Linked DNA regions of Homo sapiens. The protein of the gene in region 2 purifies or fractionates together with the protein of the main gene of each other region. This does not show direct contact. Each region holds a gene or a part of one and is shown on either strand. Other genes may lie near its edges.

Evidence for each region.
Region 1: the proteins of FAXC (region 2) and MAU2 purify together in Homo sapiens (affinity purification with mass spectrometry; one large-scale study listed by BioGRID and IntAct). This does not show direct contact.
Region 3: the proteins of FAXC (region 2) and PHLDB3 purify together in Homo sapiens (affinity purification with mass spectrometry; one large-scale study listed by BioGRID and IntAct). This does not show direct contact.
Region 4: the proteins of FAXC (region 2) and CHCHD6 purify together in Homo sapiens (co-immunoprecipitation; 2 studies listed by BioGRID and IntAct, with this or other methods). This does not show direct contact.
Region 5: the proteins of FAXC (region 2) and NCAPH2 purify together in Homo sapiens (co-immunoprecipitation; 2 studies listed by BioGRID and IntAct, with this or other methods). This does not show direct contact.
Region 6: the proteins of FAXC (region 2) and CHCHD3 purify together in Homo sapiens (co-immunoprecipitation; 2 studies listed by BioGRID and IntAct, with this or other methods). This does not show direct contact.
Region 7: the proteins of FAXC (region 2) and NCAPG2 purify together in Homo sapiens (co-immunoprecipitation; 2 studies listed by BioGRID and IntAct, with this or other methods). This does not show direct contact.

What each region holds. Positions count from the first base shown.
Region 1 is NC_000019.10:19,327,000-19,331,060, reverse strand, and holds part of MAU2 (MAU2 chromatid cohesion factor homolog), read right to left. Parts: intron 1-4,061. UniProt on the Homo sapiens protein: Plays an important role in the loading of the cohesin complex on to DNA. Forms a heterodimeric complex (also known as cohesin loading complex) with NIPBL/SCC2 which mediates the loading of the cohesin complex onto chromatin.
Region 2 is NC_000006.12:99,270,262-99,273,826, forward strand, and holds the end of FAXC (failed axon connections homolog), read right to left. Parts: 3' UTR 907-3,565; downstream 1-906. UniProt on the Homo sapiens protein: May play a role in axonal development.
Region 3 is NC_000019.10:43,498,210-43,502,270, forward strand, and holds part of PHLDB3 (pleckstrin homology-like domain family B member 3), read right to left. Parts: coding exon 3,892-4,061; intron 3,663-3,891; coding exon 3,525-3,662; intron 1-3,524.
Region 4 is NC_000003.12:126,720,785-126,724,845, reverse strand, and holds part of CHCHD6 (MICOS complex subunit MIC25), read right to left. Parts: intron 1-4,061. UniProt on the Homo sapiens protein: Component of the MICOS complex, a large protein complex of the mitochondrial inner membrane that plays crucial roles in the maintenance of crista junctions, inner membrane architecture, and formation of contact sites to the outer membrane.
Region 5 is NC_000022.11:50,514,271-50,518,331, reverse strand, and holds part of NCAPH2 (condensin-2 complex subunit H2), read right to left. Parts: intron 2,613-4,061; exon of another isoform or gene 2,585-2,612; coding exon of another isoform or gene 2,558-2,584; intron 1,886-2,557; coding exon 1,784-1,885; intron 906-1,783; coding exon 850-905; intron 756-849; coding exon 671-755; intron 592-670; coding exon 523-591; intron 360-522; coding exon 280-359; intron 205-279; exon of another isoform or gene 200-204; coding exon 54-199; intron 1-53. UniProt on the Homo sapiens protein: Regulatory subunit of the condensin-2 complex, a complex that seems to provide chromosomes with an additional level of organization and rigidity and in establishing mitotic chromosome architecture.
Region 6 is NC_000007.14:132,973,849-132,977,909, reverse strand, and holds part of CHCHD3 (MICOS complex subunit MIC19), read left to right. Parts: intron 1-2,623; coding exon 2,624-2,741; intron 2,742-3,885; coding exon of another isoform or gene 3,886-3,933; exon of another isoform or gene 3,934-4,061. UniProt on the Homo sapiens protein: Component of the MICOS complex, a large protein complex of the mitochondrial inner membrane that plays crucial roles in the maintenance of crista junctions, inner membrane architecture, and formation of contact sites to the outer membrane.
Region 7 is NC_000007.14:158,687,624-158,691,684, reverse strand, and holds part of NCAPG2 (condensin-2 complex subunit G2), read left to right. Parts: intron 1-962; coding exon 963-1,117; intron 1,118-1,731; coding exon 1,732-1,866; intron 1,867-4,061. UniProt on the Homo sapiens protein: Regulatory subunit of the condensin-2 complex, a complex which establishes mitotic chromosome architecture and is involved in physical rigidity of the chromatid axis.

The DNA.
Region 1 (4,061 bases), on a different chromosome or scaffold from region 2:
GCAAGAGAGGGTTGCAACAGGGCCAACAGGTTTCAAGTGGGGTGGAAGGGTCCAGACCAGCACAGCTCTGGTGCCTGGAGGATTCAGTCCAGGGCTGAGTGTTTCAAGGCTTCTTATTCCTTAAAACCAAAGTAACTTTTAAAAAAAAGGCTTTTTTTGATTGTAGTTTTTAGACATGGTATCCCTCTGCCACCCAGGGGGAGTGCAGTGGTCCTCACTGTAACCTCAAACTCCTGGGCTCAAGAGATCCTCCTGGCTCGGTCTCCCAAGTAGCTGGGACTACAGGTGCATCTCACCAGGTCCTACTAATTTTGTTTTTTGAGATGAATTTTCGCTCTTGCTGCCCAGGCTGGAGTGCAATGGTGTGATCTTGGCTCATGGCACCCTCCGGCTCCCGGGTTCAAGCGATTCTCCTGCCTCAGCCTCCCGAGTAGCTGGGATTACAGGCATGCGCCATCACGCCTGGCTAATTTTGTATTTTCAGTAGAGACGGGGTTTCTCTATGTTGGTCAGGCAGGTCTCGAACTCCTGACCTCAGGTGATGCACCCGCCTTGGCCTCCCAAAGTGCTGGGATTACAGGCGTGAGCCATGGCGCCTGGCAGGCCCAACTAATTGTTTTACTTTTTTGTAGAGATGGGGGTCTCGCTATCTTGCCCAGGCTGGTCTCAAACTCCTGGGCTCAGGAGATACTACCACCTCAGCCTCCCAAAGTGCCGGGATTACAGGCGTGAGCCACCATGCCTGGCCTGTTGTTGTTTTGTTTTTATAAGAGACAGGGTTGGCTGGGAGCAATGGCTCACGCCTGTAATCCTGGCACTTTGGGAGGCCAAGACAGGTGGACTGCTTGAGCTCAGGAGTTTGAGACCAACCTGGGCAACATGGCAAAACCCCATCTCTACAAAATATACAAAAATTAGCTGGGCATGGTGGTGTGTGCCTGTCACATCAGCTACTCTGGAAGCTGAGGCAAAAGAACCACATGAGCCCAGGAGGCAGAAGTGGCAGGGAGCTAAGATTGCGCCACTGCACTCCAGCCTGGGTGACAGAGTGAGACTTTATCTCAAAAAAATAAAAAATAAATAAATAAATAAATAAATAAATAATTAAAAAGACAGGGTTTTTGTCACCCAGGCCGGAATGCAGTGGTGCAATCATGGCTCACTGTAACCTTGAATTCTCAGGCTCAAGCACTCCTCCTACTTCAGCCTCCCAAGTAGCTGGGACTATAGGCATGTGTGGCTAATTTTTCAATTTTTTTTTTTTTTTAAGAGACAGGGTCTGGCTATGTTGCCCAGGCTGGTCTCAAACTCCTCCCGCCTTAGCCTCCCAAAGTGCTAGGATAACAGGCATGAGCCACCATGCCTGGCTCAAAATCATTTTTTTTTTAAACTACCCTATTGCTTGCAACACCTCTGGGATGGAAGCACAGCATTTAGCAGCTTCCCTGGCCTCTTGCTGCTGTGTGACTGTGGCTAAGCACATTCTCCTGCAGTGGCTGGGTGTCATCACAGGTGAGTCTGAGGTGGGCCTTACCCTGTTAATTTGTTGAGGATCCAGGGAGACCTTGCTCTGTGAAGCACCAATGCAGGGCCTGGCATGTAGTAGGTGCCAATGATGCTATAGTAACTGGCAATCAGGAAGTAGAAGAACCGGGGTGGGAGAGGAAGGGACCAGCTGGTAGAACCGTGAGGTGATGGTTCCTAAACAGATTTCACATCCTGAAGTCAGAGGTGACTCAAGAGTGAGAGGGAAGGAAATAGAAACAAAAACAGGAGGAAGCACAGATCACTTCATGAAACTGCGTAACGGCCAGCTCTGCACAAGTCTCTGCTCCCTGCAGATGGGACACGGAATTTAGCAGGACACAGTTGTGATCCTGAAGAATGAAAGAACTGCTTACGCTGGGCCTGATGAGGAGAGGCTCAGAACCTAGCCCTGTTGGGTCTTAAGAGAAAAGGAAGCATTTAATCACTTGCTGAGAAAGTGAACCATAGATGCTCAGGCTAAACCTGGATGCAGAATTAAGTATCTGACCAGCACAGTCTGGAGCTGCTTTCTAAGTCAGATGAGCAAAACCACCATTAAAAAGCAGCCCTGTTCCAACCACAGAGAAAGCACGCATGGCATTGACACAGAGAAAGCAAGCATGGCATACGCAGTCAGAAAACACCACTGTTCAAAGAATGACTGCCTGGATTATAGAAAATAGTAAGTTCTTCCAGAGAGGCGGCATTTAGTCCTGGGTGGCTTTCAAACCAGGAAAACCTAAGAATGATGGTGCACTTCCCAGGCCAAGGGATAAAAGGGACTGTGATCAGAAGTAAGAAAGTTAAAGGGGTGGCTGGGCGCGGTGGCTCACGCCTGTAATCCCAGCACTTTGGGAGGCTGAGGCGGGCGGATTACGAGGTCAGGAGATCGAAACCATCCTGGCTAACATGGTGAAACCCCGTCTCTACTAAAATTACAAAAAATTAGCCGGGCATGGTGGTGGGCGCCTGCAGTCCCAGCTACTTGGGAGGCTGAGGCAGGAGAATGGCATGAACCCGGGAGACGGAGCTTGCAGGGAGCCGAGATCACGCCACTGCACTCCAACCTGGGCAACAGAGTGAGACTCTGTCTCAAAAAAAAAAAAAAAAGTTAAGGGGGAAACGGATATGCAGGTACATTCTCTTGATTCAACAGCAGATGTCCAAATGACCAAGATGGATCTGTCTGCTTAAAAGACAGGTGGGAAAATAAGAAAAAAGCCATAGGGCCTGGAAGAGAGGAGAAGAATGAAAACTTACAGGGATGGGTGTACAGCAAGAAGAGAGAGAACAAGAGGAAAGCAAAATATAGAAGAACACAACCTGTCAGAATCTGCAGAAATGGCATTGCAAAATTTTTTTTTTTTTTTTTTTGAGACAGGGTCTCTCTCTGTCACCCAGATTGGACTGCAGTGGCAGGAACACGGCTCACTGATGCCTCGACCTCCTGGGCTCAAGTGATCCTCACGCCTCAGCTTCCCAAGTAGCTAGGACTACAGATGTGAGCCACCACGGGCCCGCTAATTTTCAAATTTTTTGTAGAGACAGGGTAGTGCCCAGGTTGGTCACTGCGAATTCTCTAGCCAAGAAATGTCTAAGTAAAGTGACAATGCTTATAGTCATCAACTATTTACTTAGGGGAGTCCCAGAGCAGCCAAAACACACCCACATCACTGCCAAAACCATACTCAGAGAAGGAAGGCTTTCAGGTAAAGTGTCCTGCCATGCACTGTAACAGCTCCAGAATCTGCTGAGCAGACCCAGGGAACAAGGCGGCCGGCAGGTGTTCTGAGGCCCTACAGAGGCAAGAGTCACCGAGACACCAACTACTGTGACCCCAAAAAAGCTGCTGAGGAGTTCGAGACCAGTGTGGCCAACATAGTGAAACCCCATCTCTAATAAAAGTAGAGGCCGGGCGCAGTGGCTCACGCCTGTAATCCCAGCACTTTGGCAGGTCGAGGCGGGTGGATCATGAGGTCAGGAGATCAAGACCATCCTGGCTAACACGGTGAAACCCCGTCTCTACTAAAAATATAAAAAATTAGCCGGGCGTGGTGGCAGGCGCCTGTAGTTCCAGCTACTCAGGAGGCTGAGGCAGGAGAATGGCATGAACCCAGGAGGCGGAGCTTGCAGTGAGCCGAGATCGCGCCATTGCACTCCAGCCTGGGCGACAGAGCGAGACTCTGTCTCAAAATAAATAAATAAATAAATAAATAAATAAATAAATAAATACAAGTAGAAAAAATTAGCCTGGCATGGTGGCAGGCACCTGTAATCCCAGCTGCTTGGGAGGCTGAGGCAGGAGAATAGTCTGAACCTGAGAGGCAGAGGTTTTAATGAGCTGAGATTGCGCCACTGCACTCCAGCCTGGGCAACAGAGTGAGAGTCCATCTAAAAAAAAAAAAAAAAAAAGCTCCTGGGGAGGCTGTGTGTGGTGGCTCACACCTGTAATCCCAGCACTTTGAGAGGCCAAGGCAGGTGATTGCTTGAGGCCCGGAGTTTAAGACCAGCCTGGGCAACACAGTTAGACCCTA
Region 2 (3,565 bases):
GTTCCGCCATGGCCTCTTCTCTGACTATATCCAGGATGTCCTCAGATGAATCTTATTTAAATACTCTCCCATTGTGTTAGTCCCCTGCTCAAACACCCTCCTCACTCCAAAGGGATGACTTCCGTAGAATCTGGCCCTGCATACTTCCTCCTCACTTACCCCCCTTCCCAAGCTGTGCCACCAGTGAATCAGGACTATTTGACTTTTGACTGACAGTCACACAGGATTTCCACCATCTTCCTTTGAAATCCCAAGCTAAAGTTGGGAGGAGGCCTGTGACAGTGGAGAAGGAGGTAGCCAGGTCCCCATACAATCAATGCCTGGAAACAGGTAGAGTGGGGAAGGGGCCTGGGCCTGCCCCCTCCCACACTCAGCCCCTCCCTCAACCCTCTGCCCTTCCGGAGCTGCCTTTCATGTTTGTTTTCATCCAGATTTACCTGTATATAATGTTGAGCACAGGTTACCCAGTGTGTTTGCCCAGGCCCAACATACCCTGCGGTAGGTGAACGTAACCCTCCAATCCGAACAGTCCCTCCACTGGAGACGACCCCCTAAGTCTTCATAACAAGAACGCTGGCACTAAAATAGACCTCTTAGGCATACGGGGCAGCAACACGCTAATTCCGTAAGGAAGGAAGCTGGTTCTTTTTCCTCTTTTTTTTTTCCTCCAAAATCCACTTTTATCCAAAGGATAAGCTGCTCTGACCTTGACAGTTTTTAAAAGAAAAGTCTGTTGCTAATGGGAACCAGCCCAGCTGTGAAAGATCTAATGAGTGCCTGCCAGTGGCGTCATCTAGAAACAAATCAAGCAGCTTCTGAGAGAGCAGGGAGACCAGCTGTTCCGCCTCTCCTCTAAAAGGAAAGAAGAACAGAAATATGAAACATTGAGTCAAGAAACAGTACAAATGGCAGCAAAACATGTATTTTAACGACTCTGAGATCACAGCACATTGGAAAGGTAAATGACCCTCTTCCCTCTGATGAGTCCTGAAAGCTAGGACAGCAAAGCTTCCCTAACAGGACAGACGGGAAGTCCAGGACCCCACACAAGTTCTAGAAGGGTGTGGAACCAACTGACGTTGAAGTAGATGTAGATCTATTTCAAAGTATTTCTGACTAGGGTCTATGTTAATAAACAGGGCTGATAGGATTTATAGGTCAAGAGAAATGGAGTCTAAAAAGATGAAAACCAAACTACAGGTCGAGCATCCCAAATCCAAAAATCCAAAATCTGAAACGCTCCAAAATCCAAAACTTTTTGAGCACTAACATGACACTCAAAGGAAACGGACATTGGATCATTTCAGATTTCCAGTTTTGATTTTGGGATACTCAACTGGTATAATGCAAATATTTCAAAATCTGAGAAAAACCCAGATCCAAAACACTTCTGGTCCCAAGCACTTCAGATAAGAGATACTCAATCAGTATTATCACTGAAATGGGAAATTAGGGGGTTCTCTCATTTCCTACTTAATAGATATTCCCATGTTGGGAAGGGAGGGTTAGAATTTTGAATGTTACCTGATTGTAATTTGCTCTAAATGGTAAAAAGCTAATATTTGAGTAACAGTATTATTATTTGACCAAAGATTTGGTCAAATTTTAAGATAGAATTTGAAACATCCTGCATGTCTCTATAGATCTTGACATGCCTATAGGCCCAGCTATCCTTTAAGGTTCATTACCATACACATGTGTGAATCACTTCATAGTAAGATTTGAATTTCCAAAATCTTGCTGTGAATCTCTGACCCTAAAGACTTGAGCATATCATGGCCATATTACCATATGCCAGTTTATCATCCCAAACGTCTTTCTTCATCTGTAATTTGGGAACAATAATTACTTTATTGAAGAGGTATGAAAACTAATTGAGACTATATGTGTGTGTGTGTGTGTGTGTGTGTGTGTGTGTGTGTGTGTGTGTTTGAGATGGAGTTTTGCTCTTGTTGCCCAGGCTGGAGTCAATGGCACAAAGTCAGCTCACTGCAGCCTCCACCTCCTGGGTTCAAGCGATTCTCCTGCCTCAGCCTCCCAAGTAGCTGGGATTACAGGCATGCACCACCATGCCCGGCTAATTTTGTATTTTTAGTAGAGACAGGGTTTCTCCATGTTGGTCAGGCTGGTCTCAAACTCCCAACCTCAGGTGATCTGCCCACCTTGGCCTCCCAAAGTCCTGGGATTACAGGCATGAGCCACTGCACCCTGCCTAATTGAGACAATATTTATACAAGGGGAAATTGGTCTATTATAAGGCCTAGCCATAGTAAAGGTCTCAACATGTGCTCCCAGCTCTCCCTCTCCTCCTTGTCTTCTCTCTACCAGTGGTTCTCACACTTCGTAACACTCTGAGGCACACTGGGCATGAAATAAAAGCAGGAGAGGATGGGACAGCATATTCCAGAGATCTGTTTTTCTTCTTAAAAGCCACTCACTTGAAATTCTATCAAAGTTATATGCCTAAAAAATTCATTACCTCTGTTTTAATTATACAAGAGCCTTACAACTAAAATACTCTCCCAGTCATCTAAGAGACCACCACTTAACAGTATATTAGATGCAAACATTTCAGATTTTCCCCATGAGCCTGAAGTTTAAACATTCAAATTTGCAAAAGAGAAGTAAATTGGAAGAAAGACATTCACAGAAAACTATTTCATATCCATTAGTTATCATTTACACATCAAATACATATAGCATTAAGACCAAATATACAGAATTTCCACATTTATATACAGTAGTCAACATAGTGCACAATTCAAATCTATCTTACAATCAAGTGTACAAGTTTAAATATGGCTTTATAAACTACTAATAACTCTGCTAAAGTAACTCATAGATCCAGAAATAAACACTGAAATGCCATCTTCACATTGGGGTCATCATTCAGCAAGATGCTAATCATTGTGATTGCAAAACAGAGGGTGCAGGTAAGTGTTTCCAGGTGGTGTCCGCCCATTAGCCCCGAAATGTGGGTTCAAATTATGCCAACATTGGCCCTTCCTATCTCAGATACCTAAAAATAAGTCTGCACATCTTCCACACATTTGAAGACACAAGATTATAAACAAATAGAAAAAAAGACATGTAATCAGTGAGATGATGAATTATCAGGCATTATCAAAACATGTTTTTCAGATTGATGCTGAAATTCACAGACAATACATCCTGCATTTGCATTATCTGGGTATCACCTCACCCCTACTTTCTTTTCTTGTTTTGCTTACCTCAGTGTGTTGTTAAATCTTTCTGGAATTTTCAAGGCATTCTAGATCAAGTGGTCCCAAAAGCAGAATTAAAAACATCAGTCTTAAAGGTGACATCAAATTGTTCATCCTTCTCTTTCCCAACCAAAAATGCCTATTTTAAGTAAAAATAATTAAATACCTTGACCTAAAATCATGCGTCCATGCCTGTTTTATATCTGCTTTGCCACAAATGGTATATACACATTCTCTAATCAATTACAGGCATCTGGGTGCTACGCCTAAAGACTCCTTGTCCCATTCTCTAAACTCCATTGAGGACCAGAAAATATACTTTTAAAATGTCTATGTTTGCT
Region 3 (4,061 bases), on a different chromosome or scaffold from region 2:
ACGCCTGTAGTTCCAGCTACTCGGGAGGCTGAGGTGGGAGGATTGCTTGAGCCAGGGAGATTGAGGCTGCACTGAGCTGTGTTTGCATCACTGTTCCAGTCTGGGTGACAGAGGGAGACACTGTCTCGAAAGGGAAGGAAAGGAGAAAAGACAGAAAAGAAAGAAAGAGAGAAAGAGGGAAGGAACGAAGGAAGGAGAGAGAGAAAGAAAAGAGGGAGGGAGGGAAGAGAAAGAAAAAGAAAGAAAAGGAAAGGAGGAGAAAGAGAAACAAAAAGGAAGGAAGGAAGGAATGATGGAAGGAAGGAAAGAAGAAAGAAAATTAATGAATGCAAAACATATTCATGTTATGTGATACGGTGGATGCAGAAGTGGATTGTGTCTGGGCCCTGTCCTCCAAGTGGGAACACAGCCAGTTGGAAAGATCAGGGCAGTAAAATCCAGAGACTGTGGGAACCCAGAATGAAGAACAATGTCAGCCAGAGGTTGAGGCTGCAGTGATTGCACTACTGCACTCCAGCCTGGGCGACAGTGAGACCCTGTCTCAAAATCAAAACAAAACAAAACAATCAGGGAGCATTTGGATCTGGGAAAATAAAAGGAGCTAGAAGAGCATTTTGGGCAGAGGAAGCGGCTTGGCACAAATGCATGAAAGTTGAAAAGTACAAGAAGTCTGGGGGACAAACTCCAGCCAGGGTGGAAGAGGATGTGGTGGTGGGAAGAACGTGGTGGGAGAGGACAGTGGGAAGGCCAGCTCGTCCAGCTCACGGGGGGTTTGGTCAACCTGGGGATATGGGGAGCCTCAGAAGGACTGAAAGGATGGGGTAGGAGCTAGGAATCATCCCTCTGGGAGATGGGTTACAGGGGTGGAGAGCAGCTGCCTCGGGAGTCCTCCAAGCAATGAGGGTGAGACCTAAGCTGGGGCCTGGGCGGTGGGGCTGAAAAATAGATGGACTAGACAGAGAGGATCAGGAAGCAGAAAGGATAGGACATGGTGGTTGACGGGCTTGGAGGTGAGAGACAGGGAAGTGTACAGGGCAAAGTCCAGGACTCTGGCCTGGTGACCAAAGGGACAGCAAGACAAACAGTGTGGAGAAGGGAGTTGCTGAGGTCAGCCAGACTCCTGGGTCAGAGGGAGGAGGGGCTGGGGCCTGGATTCCTGGATCTAAGGAAGGAGGATCTGGGGGTCTGGACTTCTGGGTTTGAGGGAGGAGGAGCTGGGGGTCTGGACTCCTGGGACAGAGGGAGAAGGGGCTGCGACCGAGATTTCTGGATCTGGGTGAGAAGGGAGTATGAAGTAGCCAGTACCCTAGGAAGAAGAGCACATTTCTGTCTCAGGAGAGAGGGCCTGGGAGAAATATGTGATCTTTGAGGATAAATGAGGGCCTAGGACCCAGCCTCATAAAATTCCAACATACACGACACTTGCAAAGAAAAAAACTGACAAAATCACAAGTCACCATTTTCCAACCTATAATGGTAACTGACCCAAGCAATGACCACTGATGGATGTTACAATCTTCAGATAAAAGATTCTTTTTTTTGAGATGGAGTTCTGCTCCCGTTGCCCAGGCTGGAGTGCAGTGGTGTGATCTTGGCTCCTGGGAGCTGCAACCTCCACCTCCCGGATTCAAGCAATTCTCCTGCCTCAGCCTCCCGAATAGCTGGGATTACTGGTGCCTGCCACCACGCCCAGCTAATTTTTTGTATTTTTAGTAGAGATGGGGTTTCATCATGTTGGCCAGGCTGGCCTCGAACTGCGGTGGCTCATACCTGTAATCCCAGCACTTTGGGAGGCCAAGGCGGGCAGATCACCTGAGGTCAGGAGTTCGAGACCAGCCTGACCAGCATGGAGAAACCCCATCTCTACTGAAAATACAAAATTACCCGGGCATGGTGGTGCATGCCTGTAATCCCAGCTACTGGGGAGGCTAAGACAGGAGAATCGCTTGAACCTGGGAGGCAGAGGTTACGGTGAGCCAAGATCACGCCATTGCACTCCAGCCTGGGCAACAAGAGCGAAACTGTGTCTCGCAAAAAAAAAGAGACTAGGGTGATCTTATTAGGTCGGGACAACCAGAGATGAGGTTCCCAACACTGGCTCAGGAAGCACTAAAGCACTTCTGAATACGATCAAACCTCTCCCTCTAACCAACACCCACTTGCAGAAACAGAGGCATGTTCAAGGGCACCACAGGCATGCGATCAGCCATGCTCTGCCTATAGGACAGAAGACTGGATTTTTCCAATAAACAGTATGGGGAAGACACAGCGGGTAGGAACCACCAGAGATAAAACAATGGGCAAGACGTATCAGCCAATCACACTGAACTTTGGGGACTTCATTCAAACAAGCCACCTGTTAACTGGCATTTTGAGACTGTCTGGGAAACACAAAAACTAACCAGAAATAAGACAATACTAAGAACTTATTAATTTTTTATTTTTGAGACAGGGTCTTGCTCTATCGCCCAGGTTGGAGTGCAATGTTATAATCACAGCTCACTGCAGCCTCTACCTTCTGGGCTCAATTGATCCTCCCACCTCACTCTTCTGAGTCTGAGGCCACAGGCACATGCCACCATGCCTGGTTAATTTTTGTATTTTTATTTTTCACAGAAACGGTGTCTTATTATAATATTGCCAGGCTGGTCTCATAGTCTTGGCCTCAAGCGATCCTCCCACTTTGCCCCGCCCCCCGTACCCCCCCCCCACCCCGCAAGTACTGGGATTACAGGTGTGAGCCACTTGGCCCAGCCTAAAAGGATTTCTTATCTGTCAATGATACACTCTAAACATATGTACAGACCATATGATGTCTGGGATTGGCTTTTAAAACTGGGGACGAGAACAAATTGGAGATAATGAAACAAGAATGTAAGAATATTAATCATTGATGAAGCTGGTGGGCACAGGACATGGGAGCTGCCTGACTATTGTGGGGTGGGTTTGGAAGTTTTCTTTTTCTCTTTTTTTTTTTTTTTTTTTTTTGAGACGGAGTCTCCTTCTTGTCACGCAGGCTGCTGGAGTGCAATGGTGCGATCTTGGCTCACTGCAACCTCCATCTCCCGGATTCAAGCGATTCTCCTGCCTCAGCCTCCCAAGTAGCTGGGACTACAGGCGCCCGCCACCACGCCCTGCTAATTTTTGTATTTTTAAGCAGAGACGGGGTTTCGCCATGTTGCCCAGGCTGGTCTCAAACTCCTGAGCTCAGGCAATCCGCCCGCCTCGGCCTCCCAAAGTGCTATGATTACAGGCGTGAGCCACTGCTTCCGGCCAGTTTGGAAGTTTTTACACACCCACATTTAAATAGCAAACGGACAGGGGACAAAGGAAGAGCCCCAAAAATCTCGCCCAGGGAGGGAGAAGGAAAACCAGGAGGGGCATCTGCCCCTCACTCTCTCAGGAGCCCAAATGTCTTCCTTTGGGGAATGGGGACAACCCCGGGGCGCAGGTGGCTAGGAGCACACCAACATCCATGGACCAGGAAGGACACTGCTGATGAAGACCCGGTGAGCCAAACAGACCTGTTCCCGCTGCTGGCGGCCGCGCTGCTCCGAGGCCGCCTGCTGCTCCAGCAGCTCCCGCAGCTGCTCCTCCTCCCGGCGAGCGGCCACTCGCTCCCCAGCCAGCTCACCCCGCAGCAAGGCCACCTCCACCTCCATCTGCGGAGAGAATGCCAGGGCTGGGGGCTCGGACGCCTAGGTCCAAGGAAGAGGCCCAGGGCCTGAACTACCGGATTCGAAGGGAGGATGGACTCCAGGGACCTGAATTTGGAGGGAGGAAGAGCGGAGGGCCTAAAATCTGATCCCACCCGAGGAAAAAGCTGGGAGTCCGGCTTTGCGGGTTCCGCTTGAGTTGGGGCCAGGCTTCCCAAGGGGTCCGCAGCCTCACCTCGATCCTCAGCTCCTTCCTCTGGCGCTGTAGCTCCTTCACTCGCTGCTCCATCAGGGCCACACGAGTCAATGCCTCCAGCTGCTGTCCTTGCAGGCGCCGCGCCGCCCCTCGCACCCCTTCCCGCGAAGAGGTGGATGCGGGAGGTGTGGCCGCCATAGCTATCGGAG
Region 4 (4,061 bases), on a different chromosome or scaffold from region 2:
TGAGGAAAGAAAGTGGTTTCTTGAGATGGAATCTGCTCCTGGTGAAGATGCTGTGAACACTGCTGAAATGACAACAAAGGATTTAGAATAGGATCATAAACTTAGTTGATAGAGTAGCAGCAGGGTTTTAGAGAACTGACTCCGATCTTGAAAGGAGCTCCACTATGGGTTAAATGCTATCAAACAGCATCGTATGCTACAGAGAAATCTTTTGTGAAAGGAAGAGTTGATCGATGTGGCAAACTTCATTGTTGTCTTATTTTACAAAACTGCCACAGCCAACCACCATCCTGATCAGTCAGCAGCCATCAACAAGGAGGCAAGACCCCCCACCAGCAAAAAGATTATGACTCACTAAAGGCTCAGATGATCATTAGCATATTTTGCCAATAAAGTATTTCTAATTAAGGTATATACACTTTTTAGGCATAATGTTAGTGTACACTTGAGACTACAATATAGTGTAAACACAACTCTTATATACACTAGGAAACCAAAAAGTTCATGATTTGCTTTATTTTGATGTCCACTGTACTGTGGTATCTGGAGCCACGTCTGCACCATCTCCCAGGTGTGCCAGTATCACCTTTTCCCTTCCTCTGAGCCCCCTGACAACACACATGTGCTTCTCAGAGAAGTACTACACCTCCTGCCTGCCTATCCTGATGGTTTTTAAATACCTTGAGGGCTAAGCCTGAATCTCACTCATCTCTGTACACCTCCAGTGCCACACATACAGTAGATAATCAAATACTGCTTGACTAATTTCACCTCAGTTCCCCTAATGAAGACTGGATAACCAAAACTCTCATTCATTTAGAGGATGTGAAATAGGCCTAAGGGTGTCATAAAACAGTTTACTGAGATGAAACAGCAAGCTGGGGATCAATCCAGGATAAAAATCCTTAAGAGTTCACTTTAGTAAATATTTATTAAGTGCCTAATATGTGCAAGGCATCATAAAACACAGCGGAGGGAAAGACATTAAAAATTACTGTAAGACAAAAGACATGATCAGCAACTCCACTTCCAGAATATCTCACTGAGAAAACTACTCCCCCATGTACACAGAGGCATGTGGAAGGACACTCACTGTGACACCGGAGGAAATAGGGAAAAAAGAAAAGGAAATCACATAAACATCCAACAGATAGAGAACTGACTGAGAAAATTTCGGCATATACATCCTATAGAATTTTATGGAACCATTAAGAAAGAACAAGGTAGAATACACATACACTGTCACGGAAAACACATGAGATATACTGCTGATTGTTTAAAAAGTCATAGAATTTTTTGCACATCTCAATTTTGCAAAAAAAAATGCAGACATACAAATATAAATGTTGCTGAATTTGAATATATGCATATACACATATCCGCAAGTGTGAACTGCATTTGGATTTCACATGCATGCACATAAGACACATATACAGATCTGCTCCAAGGAGAAATCTACAAAACTGCTTAGCAAAGTACTCAGAGGATGAGGTCCTGAAAGTGGGGACAGGAGCAGCTGGGGCAGGATTTTCACTTTTGGAACTTTTGCATCTTAATTTTTTTACCATGAACATTTCCTTAGTAACAAAAGATTGTAATAATAATAATAATAATAGAGTCCCTGTAGTATTTAAGATATATACAATCAAATAACTAGTTAATGACATATGACAAGAGAAGACCAAACATATCAATGGAAGGGAATAAGGAGGCCATAAAGAAACCTTTATCTCTATGGTCAGTTGATTTCAACAAGGGTGCCAAGATGGTTCAGTGGGGAAAGAGCGGTCTCTTCAACCAATGATGCTGGGACAACTGGATATCCCTTGCAAAATAATATAGTTGCACACCTACCTTACACCATATACAAGAATTAATACAAAACAGATCCGAGACCTAAACATTAAGAGCTAAAACTATAAAACTCTTATTAGAAAACAGAGGGCTAAATCATTATGACCTTGGCTTTGGCAATACGTTCTTAGAGATGACACCAAAAGCATGAGCAATGAAAGAAATAAATAAATAATTGGACTTTTTCAAAATTTTAAAGTTTTGAGTACCAAATGACACCATAGGGCAACTGAAAAGACAACCCACAGAATGGGAGAAAATATGTACAAATCATATACCTGATAAGGAACTTTTATCTAAAACATATAAACACCTTCCAGAATTGAATAATAAAATGAAAAATAATCCTACTTAAAAATGGGCAAAGGATCTAAATAGAAATTTTTCCAAAGAAGATATACAAATGGTCAATAAGCACAGGAAAAGATGCTCAACATCATTAGTCTCTAGAGAAACACGGGTTTAAACCACAATAAGGTACCACATCACACCCACGAGGATGGCTATAATTAAAAGGTCAACGTGTAAGGGTCAGCCATAGTGGCTCGCATCTGTAATCTTAGCATTTTGGAGGGCCGAGGCAAAAGGATCACTTGAGACCAGGAGTTTGAGACCAGCCTGGGCAACACAGTGAGGCCCTTTCTCTAAAAAACAAAAATTTTTTTTTAATTAGCCAGGTGTGGTGCCACATGCCTACAGTCCTAGCTTCTTGGGAGGCTGAGGCAAAAGGATTGCTTGAGCCCAGGAAGTCATGGTTACAGCGAGCTATGACTGTGCCACTGCACTCCAGCCTGGACAACAGGTGAGGCTCTGTTTCTAAATAAATAAATAAATTTTTAAAGTCAAATTATAATAAGTATTTGCGAGGATATGGAGAGTTACCACTTGATATGGCAATTCCACTTCTCATTGTACACCAAAGACAAATGAAAACATGTGTTCACATCAGCATTATCTGTAATAGCCAAAAAATGGAAAGGACCCAAATGTTCATCAACCAATGAATGGATAAGTAAAATGAAGTATATCTATACAATGGAGTATTATTCAGCCATAAAAGGGAATGAACTACTGACACATTATAACATGGAGAAACCTTGAAAGCACTACGCTAAGTGAAAGGAGTCAGACCCAAAAGGCCACACTGTGTGGCGTATTCCACAACAGGCAAATCTCTAGACACAAAAGTAGATTCGTGACTGCCTTGGGCTTGGGGAAATGCAGGGACCGGGGTGGGGACTGATAGCTACAGGGTAAGTAGGATTTGGTGGGGAGGGTGGGGGGTGGGGGTGATGAAAATGTTCTAAAAATGATTGTGGCAATGGTCACACATACCTGTGAATACACTAAAAACTATTAAATCACATGCCTTAAATGGATGTATTGTACAGCATGTGAATCACATCTCAATAAAGCTGTTACAAATAAAAAGGGAGAGAACACCAAAAACAAAGAGAAGCAGCCCAGACAGGAAGTCAATGAGAACAGCACAAGGAGGGATTCCAGTGGCCGGAAGCAGCCAAGAGAGGGATGGGTTCCCTAAGGCAGGCGCAGACTTAGACACAGGAGAAGCTCCATCCCATGGGCGGGACGGCAGCGATGTCTGCAGAAGGCAGAAGCTTCATAGCCTAGGGCAGGGCACCGGGGAAGAGGCACAGACAGGAAGAGACCGTGCGCCTGCCGCCATAGGTTCACTTTGGAAGGCGTGGGGTGGAAGGACTTGGATGAAGCCAGCACAGAAGGAAGCTTGGAAGTCAGGCAAAGGGAGAGGTCCAACCATCCCGAGGAGACGCTGAAAGTTTGTGAGCAAGGAAACATCACCACGGCCTGCGTGGGAGGTGGGATGAAAGGCTCGTCTGGTGGCTGCCCTGACTGCAGGGAATGAACGAGAGCACAGAGTTGAAGAAAAGGAGTTTTGATCTCAAGTTCGTGGAATAATTTGCGTGAGAATGACAAAGAAAGGGAGGAAATTAAGAAAATTATTCTAAGAAGGCAGCAGATCCGTTTGATTGTAGGTAAATACAAAAATCCCACATTGTAAAAGGGAGAAACCTTCCCAAGTTTGCCCATTTGCTCCTTTTTTGCGGCTGTAGCAACTAAGACCCTGAGTGAGTCAGTGTATGGGAGAATGAGGAGAAACATCTAAAGCCCCAAGTCCCCAGTAAGCACTTAGCCACATGCTGAGGGTGGAAACAGGACACCAGGCT
Region 5 (4,061 bases), on a different chromosome or scaffold from region 2:
ACCAGAAGACCCTCCCTTCCTTCCCACCAAGCCCCCCGCATCCAAGCCCTCACCCTTCTGGGTCCCTGGCATGGGGGAAACGCCCGCTGGTTCCATGGGGGACATGCCCTCTGGCTCCAACATGAAGGCCCCTCTGGGGTGGGGAACGCACGTGTTCATCCTGAAATCCTTCCGGCTGGCCAGGACCTCACCCTGACGGCTGTGCTGGCAAAAACACGCCTGCTGTAGAGACCCTTCCCAGGCAGGCCTCCCTCCCCGTCGCTGGGCTCAGATCCCTACCTGTACAGGGGATTGTTGTTCTTCTCCATTTCATCAGGGGCCACCAGGGCCATGGGCAGGAGGGGGATGATGAGGACCTCCTGCATGGAGGCCAAGGGTGGGTGAGCCAGGCACCCTTCCACTCCAGTGGAGAACAGGACCCACATGGGGCAATGACACCTTCCCACACCCCATCAGCTCAACACAGCCCCAGGGAAAGTGCTGACCTCACCCCAGCCTAAGAGGGGCCAGGCCAGGACTCACACTGGGCGTCTGATCATTCTTGAGATCCACGTTAGTCCGGGAGTCAGGGAAGTCATCCAGCGACAGGAACTGGAGGGAGACAGAGCTCGTGGGGGCGGAGCCCAGGCAAACACACAGTGGGCGGGGACCACATGCCAAAGAAACTCACCTCATTCTCTGCCTCCTGGGGGACCCCGGAGCTGGCAACCCCATTGGCCCTGTCCTCCTGCACCGAAGAGAGCTGCTTGGCCCGCCTGAGAGAGAAGCACATCCCGTGGGCATCCCAGGAGCTGCAGGGGCCTCCCTGGCCACATGCAGGGCAGCACAGTGAGTGGCTGCAGAACTCACCTCTTTCCAGAGATGAAATCAAGGGCCTGGTAGACGAGTGAGTAGAGGTATTCCACCTGGTGACCAGATGCAGGCAGTGAGGACCCAGAAAGGAGGGGCCCACCCCCAAGGCCTTCCCAGCTATCCATCGGTGCCCCCACGAGGCCTGGCCACCACCACCAAACCTCCAGTACAAGAAACCACCAATTTTGGTTCCAAAAATAATTCTCAAATCAAACCAGGAATCTCATGAGAATTACTTTACCAGCTGAGGCCACCCACATCTCTCCTCTGCCCTCTATGGTCCACGCAGCCGCGAGCGTGGCCTTCTCAACGTGTGACCCTGACAGCACTGTGGTTCCCACAGTGTGCCTCATCACACGGTCCTTGGTGGTGAGGCCCCTCGTGCTTGGCACCCACTCTGCCGACGGCCTGCAGCCCTGCTGCTCCTCCGCCCGTGTGCTCCCGCCAGCATCACCCCAGCCCCTCCTCCTGTCCTGGCCCTGCCCTGTCCCAGCTCCTGCCGCCACGGGGCCTGCAGGACAGAGCCCGTCACTCACTTCCTGTCCTTCTCCTCCACAGAACAGAGGCCCCACCGTGAGGGTGGTGGTTGTGGACTTTCTAGGTGCTGACAATGAGGCACCCACAAGTAGGGGACGGGGAAGGGGAAGGTGGGTGCAGGTGGCACCCTGGGCTGTGTCCAAGTGCACACAGCAGGTGTCATTCCCCCAAGACAACAGAGCCCAACAGCACAAAAGACCCTCCCTGCCTGGCTGTGCGATTTTAAATTAAAAATTGTTCTTGGTGTTGGAAGGTGCTGAGGAATTGGCTGAGACCTGAGGAGAGAGGGAGGTAGGTCACAGACGGGACGACCACTGCACCTGCCCCAGAAGGAGAGCCGACTGTGGTCCCACTGGCCACCAAAATGCCAAGACCAGCGTCAAGCAGGGCCCACCTTCTTACTGTAGACGCAGGCAGAGCCCTGGATCAACAACGCTGCCTCAATGAAGTTCATTGTGGTCTTGCCTTCGTCAAAAGAAATGCAGATCTGATCCAGCTGCAAGAAACAACACAAAGACAGGGGGAATCCAAGGCCCAGTCTGCACTCGCTTCTTCCAGGGCAGCCCCACCCATCTTTGGTCTCTGCCCAGCACCTCCCGAGACGGGCAGCTCTAGCTATGCTGTGGGCTCACCGGTTGTCCCTGGTATTTCGGGGCAGAGACAGGTCTCTGTGTTTCCCCCTACTTCCTATAACAAAAACCTGTTTTGGAAGTGGAAGGCCCCCAGGGCACACTGTCTACAAACAACCAGGGCAGCACAGCGGCTCCCTCCACAAGGCGCCAGAGGCTGACAGACTCCAGCAGGAAGATCCCCGACACAGAGAAGAAAAGGGAACCTCAGGGGTAGGAAAGGCAGAGATAAAATGCTGAGGTCTCCATCCTCTGAGCAGAGAACTCAGGAAACAGTTACAGGTGAGTCGCCATCCTTCCTCTGCTCCCCTCAGCCTCCCGGAGCCCCAGCTCCTCTGTCACCCCTTAAACGTCAGTGCGCCAGGCGCTCCACCCCCCGCCATGCACATTCCTTCATCCCATGCCCAAGCTGCCAACCATAAGCCAATGAGCCCCAAACCCAACCCGACCAGCTCTCTCTCCTTAGCTCTGGGGCTGCATTCATAGCTGTCCACAGAGTACATTCAAATGTCCCCAAACACTTTACTTCCATACTTTACCCAACATCTTCCCCAACGCTGGCTCATCTCCTGTATTCCTTCTCAGCAAATGACACTTTAAAAAAAAAAAAAAAAAAAAGGCCGGGTGCGGTGGCTCACACCTGTAATCCCAGCACTTTGGGAGGCCGAGGCGGGCAGATCATGAGGTCAGGAGATCGAGACCATCCTGGCTAACACGGTGAAACCTCGTCTCTACTAAAAATACAAAAAATTAGCTGGGCGTGGTGGCGGGCGCCTGTAGTCCCAGCTACTCGGGAGGCTGAGGCAGGAGAATGGCATGAACCTGGGAGGCGGAGCTTGCAGTGAGCCGAGATCGCGCCACTGCACTCCAGCCTGGGCGACAGAGCGAGACTCCGTCTCAAAAAAAAAATGTTTTTGTAGAGACAGGGTTTCTCTATGTTGCCCAGGTTGGTCTCAAACTCCTGGCCTCCAGTGATCCTCCTGCCTCAGCCTCCCAAAGCACTGGGATCACAGGCATGCACCACCGTGCCCAGCCACAAACGACACTTTGAAGCCCCTAGGTGTCTTTCCAGCTCTTCAATTTTGCATTTCCATCTGCCTGGAACACCGACCCCCAGCTGTCCCCACGCAAACTCTTTTTCAGAGCCCCTCCATTCCTGGGGCCTCTGTGCCGCTCCCTTAGTGTGATCGTGTCCCTTAGTGAACTGTGTGAGCAGCATTAGTGTAATTCCAGCCTTCTGTTCAGTGCCTGACACTGGTGTCCAGTAAATATTTGATGAACACATGCATAGATAATGTCAAAGCTAAGCCTGAAAAACGCAGAGGCTCACCAGACAGATGAAGGGAACGTGAAGGCAGCTAGCAGAGACTGGACACGTCTCTTCAGGAAAATGAGCATGATCTAAACATGGCCAAAGCATGGCGCGTGCTGGGGAGAGGCAAGATTTTAGGCACCATGGTAGCACGAAGGAGTGGCAGAGGCTGGGAAGCCATCCCCAAGGGGAGTCACTTCCATTAGCTCTTGAAGGATAAAGGGTGTTTGTCAGATCTGGGAGGAAGGGAGAGGAAACAGCAGCATGGTCGTCTACGGAGTGTAAGGACCTCGGGGGTGTTCAGGACCTGAAGAGCTGGTCCAGAAAGAAGGGAACATGGAGGAGATGGCGGCCTGGAAGCTGAGCTGCAGAAGTGGCCCTTCTCTCCAGTGACCCTCAGCCTGGCTGGCTTGCCCACTCCCAAGACACTACTGGGCTTCACTTGTCTTCTCACCTCCCCAGGTTGGACCTGCCATCTGAGCCCAAACCCACATGTTCAGCTGCCTTCTTCAAACATCGCTTGGATGGCTTCACCAAGATTCATACTGAATGCATCCACACTGAACTCCAAATAGCCCCCAACCCACCTGCCCAGAAACCCAGGGGTTCCTCTCCACAGTCACCCCCATTCTGGCCCCACCACCTCCCCTTTCACCTCTGCACTGACAGGGCTCCTCCTGCCCTTCACTCCCCTCCCGTCCACTCTCCACGCTCTGCTCAGTGCCTCTGTT
Region 6 (4,061 bases), on a different chromosome or scaffold from region 2:
TCATGTTTTGCTTCTTTTTCATTAACTTGCCAAAATCCTTATGATCCTGTATTTCTTAAAGTTGAACCATGTAGAACTCCATATGTAATTAAAATCTAAGCCATACATAAGTAAACTAAAATGGAAAAAAAAAGTAGTAATTTTTAAACAGTACTTTAAAATTAGATACACCAAATGTGGTAGATGTGATAATTCAGTTGAACAGAATTCATTTTATGTTCATGAACTAATAATAGAATTTGAATAAACATTTTATATATGTTTGTAAAGTGCCTAGCACAGTGCTTAGTAGTTGATCCATAAATGATAGTAATTTTATTATTTTATTTTAGTTTCCACCTCACTGGTAAAAATAGGTAATGCTTTTTTACTTAGGGGTAAGATGTCCATACAAATGCGTTAAATACAGTATTGTAATCTGATATGATAACCTCAGCAGTTATTTGCACAATATTCTCATGGGGAGCACTTCATTTTTGATGTTACTTTCATTTACCTCCAGGATTTATTTGAGTACAAGTGTATTTTGGTAATTAAGGGCTGTAGTCTTAAACTTTAGCATGCATCAGAATTCTAGAGGGCTTATGAAAAGACAGTTTGCTAGGCACTATCCCTAGAGTTTCTGATTCAGCAAGTGTGGGATGGAATCAGAGAAGCTGCATTTCTAACAGACTCCCAGCTGATGCTACTGCAGCTGGTTTGTGGACTGTAGTTTTAGAACTGCTGTTCTAGGAAGTGGTGTGACTTCTAATTATTGCTGTTCTCTTACAATTACACATATCCAGTGGTGTTAATGTGTTGATATCATTGATGTTGCTGAATTTATTGTATGGTCCTTGTGAAATAATTTAGAGAAATTTGGTTTGTATGAGTGTCATTGTGCTTATTGCTTAGGAAGTTTCCCAAAGGTTACTTTTGCATTAGAGAATTTCGAAATACAGATTTTAACTTGTTTCTAGTCCTCTTTTTTTTTATTTAAGACACAAAACTACACAGCTTTGATTTTTAGGGGAAAAGGATGATAACTTTGGAATATATCTCACAAGGTGACTTTTTTTTTTCTGTTGTAGTTGATTTCTGAGAATTCCAGAGTATCAGGATGATGTAGCAATTTAAAAATAGTAACACAAAATTTTATCTCTAGTTTTTTTCAAAAATCTTTTTAAAACTAAAATTTGATAAGCTAGTACTGAGTAGAATTTGGTGCTCATCATTCACACGTATAAAGTAGATTTCACTCAGAATTTCACTTACACCAACATAACAATTTTACTTTTCCTTTTTAAAGCATAGCTATACCTTCAGGGATATGATGGTATAGTAGGGTTATTCTCTCAAAGAAGAAAAGGCAGTCAGAAAATCTTTGTTCATGAGATTAGACTGAAATCTTCAGTGATTCAGTGATTACTGAATGCCTCTATGTGCCAGGCACTATGGCAAAAATCAGTGCCAAAGTAATTTATCTTTATCATGTACAATGAGGGGTTTTAGTGGGTTGTAACTTAATATGATCTAATTGTGTGATGAGGCTACTGAGAAATCTAATGCAATCTTATGCTTCATTAATAGAATTAGTATTGTGTACAGATCTAGGGAAGTAAGATTCTCCTGTCTTAGTTTGCTAGAGCATGTCTGGAGGGTTAGGTTTAGTTTGGAGCTAACAGATCGATTGGAGTCATTCCAGAAGTGAGGAGCCCTGCAGTTGAAAGGCGTGGTCATATTTGCATATGAGGATTGTTGGAAAATAGGGGTAATATACTGGGAGGAAAGATGTCCTTATTAGTTCCATAATGTCTGGCTTCTCTGCTGTGCTGTAACATCCACAATGACAGTGACCTGTCCATCTTGTTTATCGCTGTGTCCTCAATGCCTAGCACAGTGCCTGGTGTGCATTCAGTAAATGGACGAGTTGAGTAAGTTTGGAGAAAGAGACGATGGTTACCTTCAAATATTTGTCATGTAGATGGCTTTTTTTTTTTTTTTTAAACGGAGTCTCATTCGCCCAGGCTAGAATGCAGTGGCATGATCTCAGCTCACTGCGTCCTCTACCTCCCAGGCTCAAGCAGTTCTCCTGCCTCAGCCTCCCAGGTAGCTGGGATTACAGGAATGTATCACCACGCCCAGCGAAGTTTTGTATTTTTAGTAGAGACGGGGTTTCACCATGTTGGCCAGGCTGGTCTTGAACTCCTGACCTCAAGTGGTCCACTTGCCTTGGTCTCCCAAAGTGCTGGGATTACAGGTGTGAGCTGCCACCACGCCTGGCCTAGATGGTTTGTTAATTACTTAAATTTTCAGAGGCCAAATGGAAGCACCAGGGATGGAATTTTTTTGGTGGGCAGATTTTAATTTTACATAAGAAGAACTTTGTAAAACTTAGTTATATTTGGCAGCCAAATTAATAAGCTTCTTCATGTATTTGAATTTGGTTATTTGAAATGCTTGAGTGGAGGCTGCATGGGGATTTACCTCTATACCTGCTTTTTTGATAGATTATGGGCCAAGATGATTTCAGCTGTTGACCTTTTTGGCTATGTGTTTCTATTTTTAAATTATTTCATTTGATAGAAAATAATGTCAACTAATAAAATATTTTTTCTAACTTAGACAATTCTTGTCATTTTAGACTAAAGCAAGCCAAAGAGCTGGACCGAGAGAGGGCTGCTGCCAATGAGCAGTTAACCAGAGCCATCCTTCGGGAGAGGATATGTAGCGAGGAGGAACGCGCTAAGGCAAAGCACCTGGTGAGTATTAAAAATGTAGGAGAAATTTTCTTGCCTACAAGGAAATCTCTGATGTTTGGGAAGAGCTAAGTACTCTGTGCCAGCTTTTAGTGTTGATAATATTATTCATGTTCTCTTTGCTCAGATTTTGATTTTTGCCTTTTATAAGTAGCTTACAGTTTAGGTTTAACCATCAAGGACTTTAAAGGCAGGTAACTCTGGAAGTATTGAAGACCAACATGCAGACATGTGTACATGTTTCACACCTGAAGGATTGTTGTCTGCTTTTTTTTCTTTTTCTTTCCTTTTTTTTTTTGAGACGGAGTCTTGCTCTGTCGCCTAGGCTAGAGTGCAGTGGTGCGATCTCAGCTCACTGCAACCTCCGCCTCCGGGGTTCAAGTGATTCTCCAGCCTCAGCCTCCCGAGTAGCTGAGATTATAGGCACCTGCCATCGTGCCCAGCTAATTTTTGTATTTATAGTAGAGACGGGGTTTCACTATCTTGGCCAGGCTGGTCTTGAACTCCTGACCATGTGATCCACCCGCCTCGGCTTCCCAAACTGCTGGGATTACAGGTGTGAGCCACCGAGCCCGGCCTGTCTTCTTTTTTTGTCCTTTGCCTTTGGTTTTATTGTCTTTGAAACCTCAGGGGTCAGCAATGTAGGCTTCTTTCTCTCGTGGCTGGCAACTACCAGATGTTAGTCTGGAAGACTCTGGCAAAGGTGAGTAAGGTTTGATCAATCACTGCCTGGGGTTTAGGGAAGAGAAAATGTAGAGCCAGGGCCTTGGGGAACAGTCTTTTCTAAGATAATTTTTTTAAAAAGAAAATATTTTTTAATCTTTTAAAAGATTACATAGACATGTTTTTGTTGTTGTCTTTAAAAGTATTACTAACAGACAGAAGAAGGTTTAAAAGACACCCATCAATCTGTCTTTCTGATATAACCATGGTTTACACCAGTGTGTGTTTTCCTCGAGATTATTTTTTTCTAGGCTTTTTAACATATTGAAACATTTAGATAATGCTATAGATGGTGTTAAGCCTCATGAACATTTTCCTATGTCACTGAACATTTTTCTGAAATGTAGTTTTTAATGGCTGAATAATGTTCTGCCTTTTGTATTCAACATAATTTATTAAGCAATTTCTTATTGTTATTTGATAGATAAAAGTGGAGCTGCTCTGGGTGAAACCTGGAGTGTTGACTGCTTAGCCTCCACTTCGGCCTTCCTAGAAACCCAGATGTTACTCCTCGGAACCTTTAGTCCTCATTGGAGCACAGTTGGGAACTCACTGGACAGGGAAAATGGGACCATGGAATGGAGAACTTTGAACTGAAGA
Region 7 (4,061 bases), on a different chromosome or scaffold from region 2:
TAAGTTAATGAAAATATTTGATTATGAAATATATAAAATTTTAGTTACAAAAGATGTAAAAATATCTTAATGATTTTTAAGAAAACTTTTCACATACCCTCATCCTTCACTGTGCGAGTGTAATTAGTTTGTTGTGACAAAGTATCTCATCAAGCTTCTTATTCTTAGCATCACTTGGATTTATGTATGTTTTATAGTACATTGTTTTATTCTGAATTCTTGAGTTGAAATACAGTGTCTTATTAAAAAGTCACCCCAATCATAATGAAAATAGCTTCCAAATGCTTTGTGAATTTTACTATCAGTTTATTTGTATGGTCTGCAAATAACTAGTGAAATGATTAGTGCTAACACTGTAGTTGCTATCAACTTCCCAGTTAATTCAGGAATGTTATATTAGTGTAATGACATTCAGATACCTACAGATTATAATTATGAGCATTAGTATCATTAATCTAATTATTGAGCTTTTCTGTTAATAAAAGCACTGCAGTTTTTGTATTCATTATGGTAATTGCTTTGACTGTTTTTCACCTCTGAGCCAAAATTTGAGGCTGGCACATTGAGGGATAGTAGTGGATTATTGATTGGTCAGTAGACCTGTCTTGGCTCTGGTGTTAACAGAGATACCATTGGTGTTGTTACACTGAGGTTTGGTTAGCCTCAGCATCTGCCTTTCTAAAATTGGTGATACGATTTCTCTGAGACTTCCAGTTCCAAAAATCTCTTTTCTATTATGTCTGTTGAGGGTCTTTTTATAACAATCGTCAAACAGTTTTTTAATTAACATTATTTGCATTTTATAACTAATGTATATAAATCTTTGGCAAGTTAAACATAACTAATATTATTTGCTTAGCAAAGCTTTAAATAATATATAAAGTCATGATACTCTAAACTGTTGACTCTGAAGTAATAAGAATTTGCCTTACTAATTGGAAAATTACTGTGCTGTATTTTAGGTATTTTATATGCATTACCTGAGTCTGAACGAAAACTACAGAGTTCTATTCAGGATTTGTGTGTTACCTGGTGGGAGAAAGGCCTGCCTGCCAAGGAAGACACAGGAAAGACAGCCTTTGTCATGTTACTAAGGAGGAGTCTGGAGACTAAGACAGTATGCTCACTTTTTATTTTTTTAAAGACAGGGTCTCTCTCTATTGCCCAGATGGAGTGCAGTGGCATGATCATAGCTCACTGCAGCCTCAAACTCCTGGGCTCGAGCAATCCTCCTGCCTCAGCCTCTCAAGTAGCTGAGACTTCAGGAGTGCACCACCTAGCTAGGACTTTATTTTTAAACGTCTTCCTAACATTCTAAACCTGCGCTATTCAACGTAGTAGCCACTTGCCACAGAAAGCTGTTTAAATTTAAAGTTAAAAATAATGAAAAATTCAGTTCCTCAGTTGCATTAGTCACATTTTAGTAGCTCTACAGTGAAATGTGGCTAATGTCTACTGCACTAGACAGTTCAGATGTATAAAATCTTCATCATCGAGGAAGTTCTTAAACTTGCTGGATTTTTAATTATTTTCCTTATGTTTTAAAAAAATGTTCTGTAGAGCTATAGGGGGCATTTGCAAATTTTAAAATCTGTTTTTATTTGTCGTTATTTTTTAATCTTTGATGAATCAACTAGAATTACCATTATTTATGATATAAAATATACTTGATTTGAAATATGACTTTACTGTTCATTGAAAAAGGTATCACATTTTTTGTGTCATTCCTAGGGTGCAGACGTATGTCGGCTTTGGCGTATCCATCAAGCTTTATATTGCTTTGATTATGATTTGGAGGAAAGTGGAGAAATTAAAGATATGTTACTTGAGTGCTTCATAAATATTAATTATATCAAGAAAGAAGAGGTAAATAGGTATTTGTTTTTTGATCTGTTTGTGAGCTGCTTCTTAATAGATGTTTCTCCTGTGTTCACATGGTTCCTGTCTGCACCATGCTCGGTGTTGCTTAGCTACCAGGAGCTATTTACTGCACATGATTTTTACTGCATGGCAGTACTAGAGAAGACATTTTACAAGTCCTTGCTTATTTCATCATTAAATTGGATGGTAACAGGTGGCTGTGTGTTACCTAGGGGAACCGTAATTACATTTTAAATTAAGAATGATTAAAAATAAGGTTGAGAAAGCACTTCTCTATGAATGAGATCTGGCCTTCTGCCCTAATTCCATTTTAATTGCCATGTACTCAAAACTGTCATCCCATAATATCCTCCCTTTCTTTTTTCTACCCATCCTGTAAATCCAGAGAGGCTTCTGGCCTGTTGCTGCACTGCCCGTCCTGGGGTCAACTCCCATATGAGGCTACTGAGCACCTGAAATGGGACCCAACTGAACTGAGATTAGCCATAAGTATAAAATACACATGGATTTGAAGATTTAGTGGGAAAGAAATGAACATAAAATAGCTCATTAATAATTTTTGTTCTATACTTAATATAATAGACAATATTTTTATTGTCTGTTATATTAAATATTGCTTTACATAAAATATATTATTAAAATTAATCTTCTTTACTTTTGTTAACATGACTACTAAAGAATTGAGAATTACAGAGAGGCTCGCATAGTTCTTCTGTGTTAGGGGCCTTCTGCAGTTGTTTACTGAGCGTCGACTACATGCTCAGGCAGTGCCAGGGGAGACTAGAACAAGCTTTTGCATTTGGATGCTCATGGCTCAGCAGGCACATCTCTGAGGCAGAAGGAGGAAGTCATCCCTCCTCCCTGAAGGAGGTGGAGAAGGGCTTCAGAGGAAGAGGAGGACCAGCTCTGAGGTACAGAATAAGTTTCCTCCAGGTGTCACAGCTGCTCAGCGGCAGAGACAGAACTGGACCCCGGCGAGCCATCTGCAGTCTGCTAGACAAAGGGCCATGTGATTAGGACTGAGACCTTTGGCTCCCAGGGTCTTTGTTCACTTTATAGGTGGTGCCCTTGGTCAGGCCTTTCAGCCTCAGAGTTTTGTTCTGTAAAATAGGAGCAACAGTTACTGTTTCACAGGATTGTTGTTAGGAACAGATGAGGTAATATGTATCAAACCGCAGCCCAGGCGCTGGTGGATAAGAACCCCTGGGGAGGGCTGCCCTTTGCCATCCTTGCTGTGTCAGCACCATCGTTATTACAAAGATGTTGGACACAGCCTGTGCCCCACACATGTCTCCAGGATTGTTCTGAAATGGGAGAGTGAAGAAATTAATGATGGATTCAAACAATAAACTATTTTATGTTGACTTATACATAAGGAGTTGATGAATCGTACTTGTTAACTTATATATGTGTGCAGATATATAACAGACATAAATGTATGTATGTGTTATAACCTCTACCCTTTTTAAAAAATTGATGTCTCCTTTGAATTTAAGATATCTAAATGTAGTTTCCTAATCAATCATTAATTTGGTCAGGTCAGTTTCCAGTCATTCTGGGTAAACCATAAACATCTTGTACTGTACTAACAGATTACTTCCAGTGAATATTACTGTTTTTTTTTTTAACTTGCCTGTTGTGAGCATGGTTACCCTGCATTTGAATCAAAATGTATTGCATTTCTGTAGGATTCCAGTTCTGTGCAGTGGTGTGCTGGTAAGAGATGAAGGTGCTATTCACTGAGAGAGTTCTAGATAGATGCATCTTATGCACTCTATAGAGTATGAAGATTGTATTCATTCTTCTTAGGTTCAGATACATAATCTAGTAGCATGCATATAAATTATCATCACATGATGTATTTATGACTTGAAGACTGTGTATTTGGAAATTCTAGCTTGACAAACACTTAGCCTTTTAACTATATGAGTCCTCAGTTTTCTCATCTATAAATGAGAAGGTGAAATGAACTGGGATATTCAACTCCATTCCCACCCACCTATGCTAGATTTAAAGCTTTCTTTCATTTGAGACTATGGAACCATCCATGACAGAGCCAGAATGAGATGTTTATGGACCCATGGTTACTGTCTGTGGTCTCCATCTCTGCACCTGTGGCCCTTGAGGACAGAGGCGCTCAGTGTAGCGGCTGCTCGGCCCTGGGGGAGGTGGCTTGTGTG